Homo sapiens: one gene and its partner. The protein of the gene in region 1 purifies or fractionates together with the protein of each later gene. This does not show direct contact. Each region holds a gene or a part of one and is shown on either strand. Other genes may lie near its edges.

What was found.
Region 2: the proteins of PAH (region 1) and USP19 purify together in Homo sapiens (affinity purification with western blotting; 2 studies listed by BioGRID). This does not show direct contact.

What each region holds. Positions count from the first base shown.
Region 1 is NC_000012.12:102,906,944-102,914,244, forward strand, and holds part of PAH (phenylalanine-4-hydroxylase), read right to left. Parts: intron 5,956-7,301; coding exon 5,848-5,955; intron 1-5,847. UniProt on the Homo sapiens protein: Catalyzes the hydroxylation of L-phenylalanine to L-tyrosine.
Region 2 is NC_000003.12:49,107,476-49,111,050, forward strand, and holds the end of USP19 (ubiquitin carboxyl-terminal hydrolase 19), read right to left. Parts: coding exon 3,475-3,575; intron 3,389-3,474; coding exon 3,236-3,388; intron 3,130-3,235; coding exon 2,969-3,129; intron 2,888-2,968; coding exon 2,709-2,887; intron 1,711-2,708; coding exon of another isoform or gene 1,483-1,710; exon of another isoform or gene 1,198-1,482; intron 1,054-1,197; coding exon 937-1,053; 3' UTR 575-936; downstream 1-574. UniProt on the Homo sapiens protein: Deubiquitinating enzyme that regulates the degradation of various proteins by removing ubiquitin moieties, thereby preventing their proteasomal degradation. Stabilizes RNF123, which promotes CDKN1B degradation and contributes to cell proliferation.

The DNA of each region.
Region 1 (7,301 bases):
AAACTCATAATGATGCTGTCTTGGCTAGAAAGTTTGTAGAATTAGAATGATCAGGATAGAGGAGAGATGAGAAAAGACTGTAGCTTTATCTTCTAATTTTTTTCTTAAGAAATGATATGTTAATTTGTAATATTTGAAACTGCAATGACACAGGAAAAAATGAAAGTGATATGTCCAAATGTTAACAGCGGTTGATAATAGATGGAAGGAATATTAGTAGTTAATTGTCTTGCATTTAAATGCATTTTTCAATATGAAAGAAAAAATACCCAGAGACAGGTACTTTTGCCCCCTCACCCCAAGAATGAGAGACTGGGACCAGGATATTTGCATTTTTTAAAAAACTCCAGAGTGATTCAGATGTTCAGGGATAGCTGTATTTGGCAGAGGTGTGGGGTGTAATAGAAAGATCATGGGCTTCGGAATCTGAGATTCAGAGTTCAATGCCATTTCCACTGCACATTAGCTGTGTGATCTTGAGCAAATTACTCAACCGCTCTGAACCTCAGTTCCCTCATCCATAAAGTGAGAGTACCACCTTCACTTAGTTTAATGCGGATTAAATGAAGAGTCATATGTGCCCAGCTCATTGCATAATGCGGTTCCACAAATACTAGAATTTGATTCTCTCTCTTAACGTAGCATCTTTTTCCTTCTTTTCTTTTCTTTTTTTTTTTGTGGGGAGGGAGGGGGCGGACAGAGTCTCACTCTGTTGCCCAGGCTGGAGTGCAGTGGGGTGATCTTAGCTAACTTCAAACTCTGCCTCCTGGGTTCAAGCAATTCTCATGCCTCAGCCACCTTAGTAGCTGGGATTACAAGTATGCGCCATCACGCCCAGATAATTTTTGTATTTTTAGTAGTGATGGGGATTCGCCATTTTGGCCAGGCTGGTTTGAACTCCTGGCCTCAAGTGATCTGCCCGCCTTGGCCTTCCAAAGTGCTGGGACTACAGGTGTGAGCCACCATGCCCAGCCTTAACTCAGCACTTTGAGTGATTTTAACATTTTGCCAGGCTGTTACTAAGGCGAGAAGTATACTGGCCTATACAATTTATACAGCAACTTCTGAAGTATGTTTGGAAAAAAAAAAATCAATACTCACTAACAACCCTTCTTCAATCACCCAATACAGTGACCTCTGTTTCCTCTTCTGTAAAATGGGTGTAATAACATCACTTACTGACCTGTGCAGTTGAGATTCTGGATAATGCTTCAGAGAGTTCACCCAGAGTTCACATACATGCATGCGCCCCCCTCCCTACCACCCCCTGCAGCCCCGACACACACACACACACACACACACACAAACACACATGTCTTGAGTGCATTCCATCCAATTCTGGTAATTTAGTTACTTGTCGTTTATTTATTAGGTTGAAAACATTCTGTTCATTTACTATTATTTAATCTATTAACTCTGACTTAGGCCTAAGGGGCAACCTCTCAAGGAGAAAATGCTGATTATCTAATATAAAAGCTAAAAAGTTACATAGGTGCATTTTACAGATATATTCTTTCTCATGGACAGTTTGTTGCTCAGAAAATGCTGTCTCTCTTCTCTACACCCATTGCTCGCTTGCTCTCACTCAGACATACATTCTCCTCCCCCAGGTTTAATTTTTTAAGGCAGTTTTTAAAGAATAATTTTGATTTATGAAAAAATAGAAATGATAGCACAGAGTTTCCACATAACCTGGACTCAGTGTCCCCCATTATGAACATATGAACATCTTACATTAATGTGGAACATAGGTTACAATTAATGAACCAATATTGATGCACGTTATAAACGAAAGACCATACTTTATTCAAATTTCTTTAGTTTATATCTAAAGTCCTTTGTCTGTTCTAGGATCCCATTCAAAATACCACGTTACATTTAGTCCTCATGTCTCTTTTTTTTTTTTTTTTTTTTTGAGACAGAGTTTCACTCTCGCTGCTCAGGCTGGAGTGCAATGGCGTGATCTCAGCTTTCTGCAACCTCTGTCTCCCTGGTTCAAGCAATTCTCCTGCCTCAGCCTCCCAAGTAGCTGCCACCATGCCCAGCTAATTTTTTTGTGTTTTTAGTAAAGACCGGGTTTCACCATGTTGGCCAGGCTGGTCTTAAACTCCTGACCTCAGGTGATACTCCCGCCTCAGCCTCTCAAAGTGCTGGGATTACAGACGTGAGCCACCGTGCCTGGCCCTAGTCTTCATGCCTCTTTAAGCTCCTCTCGGCTGTGACAGTCGCTCAGACAGTACTTGTTTTTGATGACCCTGAGAGTTTTCAGGAGTAATGGTCATGTATTTTGGATAATGTTCCTCAATTAGGATTCATTTGATTTTTTCTCTCATGGTTAGATGGAGGTTATGGATTGTGTGGAGGAAGACCACAGGGGTAATGTGCCATTTTCATCCTACCAAGAATGCATACCATCAACATGACATCACTGATGATGTTAATTTTAATTTTAATTTTTTTTTACTATTAAGGAAAGGTTTGTTTTAATATTCAGTTTCTTTTTGAATAATGTTGATTTTGGTCACATGGCTGAGGTGTCTTTGTCATATTTCTCCACTGTAAAGAAACTCTTCTCCCCCTTCCATGTGGTACTTTTTGGAAAAAAAGTCACTATAAAAACCCACTACTTAAATTATTTGGAACTCTAAATAGGAGATCTATCTTTTCTCTACTTATTCATATATTTGATCACAAGATTTAATTATATTTAAAAACTCAGGGTAAAAATTAATTGGCCCTGGCTGGTAGCTCACGCCTGTAATCCCAGCACTTTGGGAGGCCAAGGCAGGCAGATGACTTGAGTCCAGGAGTTCCAGATCAGCTTGGGCAACATGGTGAAACCCTGTCTCTACTAAAATTATAAAAATTAGCTGGGCATGGTGGCATGTGCCTGTAGTCCCAGCTACTGGGGAGGCTGAGGCATGAGAATCGCCTGAACCTGGGAGGCGGAGGTTGCAGTGAGCTGAGATCGCACCACTACACTCCAGCCTGTGTGACAGAGTAAGACTCTGTCTCAAAAAACAAAATTAATTGGCTCAAAAAGTGAAAAGATACTTTTAAAATATTTTTTTAACTTAAAAATATTTATTAAGGTAAAAAATTTTCTTTAGATTGAATTTCATTCTTAATTGAACACAACATATATAAAACTCAGGTTCTGTTGAGGATATAAACATGACTGAGACAAGGTTCTCTTCTTGAAGAAACCATCCTCAGGGCTAGACATAATGTATATGCTGAGCACGCAAGGAAGTGCTGCAGTTAAAAGTAAGAAGTGCTTTGGGAACACTGAGAAGATTGTAATTAATTCAGGGAAAGCTTGATAAAAGAGGTCTGAGGTCAGGGCCAGCTTCTGGGATATGCAACCACTGTCATACCACAGGAATCACACTTGGGGTTTCATGTTCTTTGCAACCTCCTTGAAATTCCTTTTTTTTTTTTTTTGGGGAGGGAGTCTTGCTCTGTCACCCAGGCTAGAGTGCAGTGGCACGATCCGGGCTCACTGCAAGCTCCGCCTCCAGGGTTCACGCCATTCTCCTGCCTTGGCCTCCCAAATAGGTGGGACTACAGGCACCCACCACCACGCCGGGCTAATTTTTTGTATTTTTAGTACAGACGGGGTTTCACCATGTTAGCCAGGATGGTCTCGATCTCCTGACCTTGTGATCCGTCAGCCTCAGCCTCCCAAAGTGCTGGGATTACAGGCGTGAGTTGAAATTCTTAATAACGACTTTTGAATTTGTGTTTCATAAGCAAAGTCCAGTGGGACAATGAAGCACATGCTGGGTATTTGGAGACTCAGCTCATGTGTAATCACACCATTTGCCCTCTCCTTACCTTCTCAGCCATGGTTCTAAGGGGTTGCTTTCAAGCACGTTGGCCCTCTGGACCCACGCAGCCTTCCCCTCCCTGGTCTTACCTCACCACCACTACTGCCCTTTGCCCAGAGTCATGACCAGGAGGCATGGGCTTTGGGGGGAAGTTTATATTCTGCTGCCACTCTCCGCCAACCCTGGGAGATCTGGCAGGGGATTTGGTGGGTGATTTGGCTTCAGGCAAGCTTCCTTTCCATTCTCATTCCAGAGGTTACAATCTCTTGGGGGATAGCTCATCACTGTGGGTTGGTGCAGCAGGTCCACGGAAATGGAAGATGGATTTCCCCATCCTTGGTAGGGGCTTGGCTGTCAGCCCAGCCCTGGCTGGACAGGGAACCCAGCAGTTAGAGGGCCAAGGTGCCCAGGGGAGGAGAGCACAACTAAATGGCAAATCAAAAACACCATAACAGGACATGAGAGAGACCACAGAAGAAAGGATAAAGTTATATATTTTAGTACTTTTAACAGCATTATTTCCTGTTATTGAGGAAGAGACCCCACGTTTTCATTTTGCACTGCGCCCTGCAAACTATGAAGCCCGTTCTGTCTGGGGCAGTACTGAATAGCAGTTAAGAGTGTATGTAGGTTCTAGACTCAGAATGCCTGGGTTTAAATGATTTCTTCCGTATTTACTAGCTGTTTGACCTTGGGCACATTTACCTAACCCCTCTAAGCATCAGTTTCTATCTCTGAAAAATGGGGGCAGAAATAGCTCCTACCTCATGTTATTTTCATTAGACTGAATAAGATCATGTCTATAAAGCTACCTTTTACTGAGATAACTTCTCATGCTCTGCCTTCCCTCCCCAGCTGCTCAGAATATTTGCTTCCCCTGTTAGATCCTAAAGGAGGCAGTTTCTCTTCCTTACAATTTCTATGTGTCCCCCATCTTCCTCCCCACCCACAGTGCTGAGAACATCATAGGTTTTCACAAGATATCTAATCGTATCCAGTCATGCCCCAAAAGGATTTGTTGATTGCATGCCCAAACACACTGAGCACTAAGTATGTGCACAGCCCTGACCAATGTGCTACCCCTGCCTCCCAATCAGCTAGAGAGGTCACAGGAATCTTAGCATAAAGCAATGTATTTTCAGGTGGGACAAAATCCCACCAAAAATATTAGCATAGTACTCGGAAGGAATCTGGCTGAGGAAACCTATTTGGAGTTCTGTGAAGTTTGGCTGCCCAGCAAACACCCAAATCAACGTTTCCTAAACTCTGTTCCCAGATGTGAATACATGTTCTTAAAATAAAAAGGATCCACAGTCAAGTAAGTTTGGAAAATAATACATACATTTCTCTCTGTAAACAACTTAGTATAATTAGTTTTATAGACTCTAAAAGTCCTATAATAAAGAAATCAGGTAAAATAATATGCCCGAATTTCCCAAGTTTATTAATTATGGAACCACTTTAATCATAAGACATTTACCAATGTCTTGAAGAACATTAGCTATTTTCTAAAGCATAGTTTTGGGTTAAGCTACTTGAAGAAAGGGACGGTGTCTTGCATATTATTTTACACTTATACATAGAAGACAATCAATATTAATTTAGTGAATAAAAGAATTAATATTTATTTCTTGTTTACTCTTTAACTGTAATCACATGTGACACATGTGATTACATGTTATGTGAAATGTAATCACGTGTCACATATGACTTATAGTTAATCATGCCTAATCACACATATGATTAGGCATTTTACAAAACACATTATTTCATCACAAAGTTCCTGTTGAAACTGACAAGGCACATATTATCAGCACTATATTATGAATGGAAAAACTGAAGCTCAGAGAGATTGAATGACTTAACTAAGGTCACACAGTTGGTTAATGTAAAAACTTGAGCTCAAATTCAAATCTGCCTGTTCCAGATCCTGTGTTCTTTTCATTGCATCTAACTAGAAAAGAACATGGAAGTTTGCTACGACATTATCCAAGACAAACATGATTGTAGCACTGACCTCAAATAAGCGCAATACTTTGGCCAATGCACCAACTTCTTCTTTGAGTGAGAAGATCAGTGATATGGCACCATTTTGATTGCAGTTGTCTTCAATATAGCTTGTTTCCTACAGGATAAGATGCATTTGTTTAAAACATTTTCCACAGTTTAGCAATTCATTCCTGTTAAACCTCCATGGACAAAGCAAGCATGAACTCTTTCTTCTAGTTAAATCTTGCAATACAATGAGCTATATATATTCTATACAGAAATATGTAGTGTGGTGGAAAATAAGTAAGTCCAGGGCAATTAAATGATCAATGATGCTACTGGGTCAGTTATCAGCTTAAGGAATCTTCAATTATTCATTGATGTCACCATTCAATCCTGTAAATTCAATACCTTTTATTGAGCAACTACTAGGTTCCAGGCACTATTTGGGCTCTGAGAAATTTAAAGATGAATAAGACAATGCTTTATCTTTTAGGAGCTCACAATCTAACTTAATAGACACATATATAACAAACTGAAAGATCCTTAGAGGTGATATAATATGATTTATAAAATGTCCCAGAAAGACATTGAGAAATACAGTGTGGAAAGTACTAAAAATGGAACATGCACAGGCTTTTGAATCGTAAGACCTGGATTGGAATCCTCTCTCTTTCATTTTCCAGGTGGACTACTTTGGGCAAATCATTCAGCTTTCTTAGTTTTCTCATCCGTGAAAGCATGCTAATAACAAGATCTGTCAAAACAGTATTCAGAGGATGAAAAAAGGAAAAGAATAGTTTAAAAAGAATATTGAGAAGTATATAAAAATGATGGAAAATTATAAATACACAAAAATGACCTCTTGACCTTTGGCAAAGATCTCAGGAAGCATTAACTTGCTCCCATATGCTGAGATCTGAGACATCCAATTGTTGAAAAAGAGTTACAAAATCCATGAAAGTACACAAATAACCTATCAGAAAATAAACTTAGTCTTAAACTAAATCTCAAAGAATGTCCAGGATCTAGCACTTACTACATGCATGTGACAGAAAACCAAGGTTGGGGTTAGGGCTGACATTCCAGAGTTTGCTAAATCATTAGCCTAAGTCGAAAAATAATACATAAAATTCTATGTGTGTCCACAATAAGCAGCAGGTACCTAAAACTGGGAAGAAAAAAATTTGCAGAACAATTACTCTCTTGTAAGCAAGTTAATGAAATTAATGGAATAGATGTTACATCATCTCAATGAGAGAAGGCTGTGTTAGGAAACTCTTAGTGACTCAGAATAACAAGCCCTGCATGAATACTGATGACCCTTAGCAAAAAATTCTTTCAATTCAGAAAATTCAGATTTTTGCCAAAACATCCCATGAAACTGAGGTGTGAAGGAAAAAACAAATTTATCAGCAAGAGTGATTTTAGGGAGCTTCAAATGAAATGGAAGACTAAACTGTTAAATATCCCATTTTGATC
Region 2 (3,575 bases), on another chromosome or scaffold:
CCCAGCACCCTCCCTCCAATAGAAGTCAGACAAGATTCACTCTGGTCCTCTCTGCTTGTCCTCTTTTCAGGGCAGCAAGATCTGCCCCACAGCAGTTTTCCTCCTGCTCTGTTACCTGCAGGGATGCAGTTAGTGTTCAAGTTACAGCAAAGAAAAAGCTGAGGACAGGAGAGGAGGAGGAAGATCTCCCAGTACTTCTGTCCCCCAAGTCCTCCCTGACTTGTCAGCCCCAGGCTGCTCTGGTGAATGCACCTTTTACTCCACGCTGTCAGCTCCAGTGCTTCATATACTCCTCTGTCCCTTGGCTATATTGAGATCCTGACGATGCCTACCAAGCTGCCTCTTATGTAGGATCCAGAACCAGTGGGATGAAAGAGCAGCAGGTAGGCTCCAAAAAGCTGATAGCACTGGGGGCTTCATGACCCATAGGACATGAGCTGGGACCCCATCATCTCCCTTCAGACTAGGGCACTTTCAGGGTCTCTCATATATAAACACACATACACACACATACACACCGCAAATGATGGGGAGGGGAGGTGGCCCCAGCATGTGGTGGATCACAGTCACTAAGTCTACTTACTTATTATTTATTTTTAAAATATATTTAAACAGCAGCAGTCACTTCCAAAATGCAAAAAAAATTACAATTTTTAGAATAAAATTATAATGTTTATAATGCGGGTCAGAAGAATTGAAGGTACAACAGAATCAAATCACGCAGCACTGGAGGCGGCTGGAGAAGCCAAAGCCCACTGGTCAGGGGTCCAAGCTGACAAGAAGTCCCAACCTGAGAGGTCTCCACACCCAAATCATACCCCTCAGCTTCCCATTGACAGAGCCAGTGTCCTCTGGGTTAGAGAAGGAGAAGCGGCAAGGAGCTGGCCCTCTGTGTGGGTGTCCCAAACCCAGTCCCCCCCATCAGCCAGGGACCTGCTAATCCACCTCCTCCATGTTGCTGTAGGTGGGGGCTGGCCGATCCACAGGGGGGGCGAAGCGTTCAGGGGCTGTCCGCGTGGGGGCCACCTCGGGGGCCTGGCCAGGGCCTAGTCCCTGCAACAGAATACGAGGACAGGGGTTGGGGGCTGCCCAGCATGCCGCCTGGCATCCCGGGGGTGCTGGCTTGGAGCCCTGGCACCCAAGGGAGGGTCCCAAGGCAGGCGCAGACAGCAGCGGCGTTGAGACAGAGAGACGAGATTGGGCCTGAATAGTCTGGTTTTATTAACACTTTTAAGTACAGGAAGTAGCTTGGGCAGGGCCAAGCCTGAGGCCAAGGGTCAGAGCAGCAGGATGAATGGACAGACAGCCAGATGGATACACACCCTAGGATACTCTGCCCCTGCAGGGGCCACAACCTCCCCACCCTCTCCCACCAGATGCATAAGCTGAGGCCCAAAGCCCAGAGGTGTTCCCCACAACAAAGGCAGGCATGGCCTGGGGCAGGCAGGTAGGCCAGCTCACAGCAGCTGCCTGCAGGCGAGCTCATCTCCAGCGACTCTGGGATACCAGAGGATAGAACACGTTGAGCACGAGGGCCACCAAAGCCGCCACGGTGCCCAGGACAAAGTACCGGAGGCAGCCCTCATCTGGTGTGGTAGGGCCACGTGGTAGGGGGCCCACCCAGTCTTGGGGCCCCCAGGGACCCAGGGGCCCAGACCCCTCAGGCACCGGCTCCTCCTCAGCCTCCAGCTCCTGCCAAATCCGGGAAGCCTAGGGTATGTGGAAACGGCCATCAGCACCCCGGGGGTGGGGAGGACCCAGTGTCCCTGAGACCCTTAGCCATGACAGTCCCACCTGGGGTGACTGGGGCTAACACCCTGCATTCTAGATCAAACAGCAAGGAGGAAGGCAGGCAGCCAACCTCAGGGCTGTCCAGAGTAAGAGCACAAGGGTAAGAGAATCTTGACAGCATTTTGGCCTACCCTAAACAGCTCTCAATCCACATGCAGCTCCGCATGGAGGTGGGAGGGGAGTTATCTGGTTAGTATTTCAGTCCAGGCCTCCCCAAAGGACACCGATTCATAGAGAACAGGACTGCCAATCCCAGAGCAATCTCCTTGCTCCTTCCCACCCATACCCAGATCCTGACCAGTCTTCTGCAAGGATTTCTCTAAGCTTGACAGAGAAGGCTCAAGAGAGGATGGAGCCAGAAAGGAGACGGCCAGTCCAGAAAAGAGATGTGCCTACGCCCACTAACTGGGCCTATGGCACACCATGTCACTAAAGAGAAGATCCTGAAGGCTCAGCAAAGACAGATGCTTACCTCAAAGAGTATAACAGCCACCAGAGGCCATGGCCAGCCCAAATAGGCCTTGTCTTGAGTGCACACTAGAACTCAGGGACATCACAAGTGAGGGTGTGTGGGCCAGCATGTGGGGAATGTGCAGAGGAAATCTAGGAGAGTGTCAGGTATAGTTCATTCACAGCATAGTGCCCAGTGAGGTTCAGAGCAGTTGCCTGACCTGTGCCAAGTAGGTGCCAATGTGCTTGCCAGTGGCAGCATGTTAGTGTACTTGTATGTTTGTTAGTGTCCCCAAGGCATGGGGATGCCTCTGGCTAAAGCTTTGATGTTAAGAGAACTCTGCAATTCTCATGAATCCCAAGGCTCAATGGGCCTGTGGCTGGAGGAGAGGAAGCTATATCCCCCAACCCGGCCCCAGTCTGTGAACTGTCCCCCAGTATTCTGTAAAGCCTCCCACATGCCTCACCTGGCTGGCAGCAGCCTCAGCTGCAGGGCCTAGGTCTGGGTGGTGCTCAGAGTGACCTGCCCTGGGGGGCCTCTCCACAGGAGAGTTCCGCCGGCGGTAGAAGAGTACATAGGCATAACGCGTCACAACCTGGCTCTCGTCTACCGTTGTCACTGTGCTGTCATCAAACAAGCGCCAGCCTACAGCAGGGTGGGAAGAGTGTGAACAAAGTCTGCACCACCACCCCTACCACCTATCCTGCTGGCTGTGTGTGCCCTCACCCACGTCACTGCGCTGACTGCTACGATCATTGGGCAGGCGTGCACAGGCAGTGTAGTGGCCACCAATCATGCCTCCATAGTGGTTGATGACAGCATATAGATCGTAGCTGGGCAGCTGCTCCTCTTTCTGACCAATGCAGAACTTGCTCAGGTCCAGGTTCCTGCAGGTCAGGTCCAGTCAGGGAGGGGTGAGACAGGCAACAGGCGCTCAGGATGCCCATCCTGGTCCTCACACCCCACCCACAGTTACCAAGGTCCACTGCTTACCTAACAGGGAACTCCACCAAGTCATTGATCTTGTCACGCCAGATAAAACTACGAAAGGAGAAGCGCTTGAGCTGCACGATGAGAACATTTGGCAGGCGCCATAGCAACAGCTGCTTGGAGGCCTCACGGTGCTGTTTGCACTGTGGGCAGTACCTGGTGGGGACAGAGATTGGGTCAGGACCAGCAAGTCTCTCTCTTCTCCATCCTGCCCCCTTATCTACTTGCTGCTCTGTTCTCACCAGGCCTCCTCGGGTGCCAGCACCTCAGGCCGTGTGAAGAGGTTGAGGCACTGGTCCAGGGTGAAGTGGCCGGCCCGGGCAGCCTCACCGGCAGAGCCTGG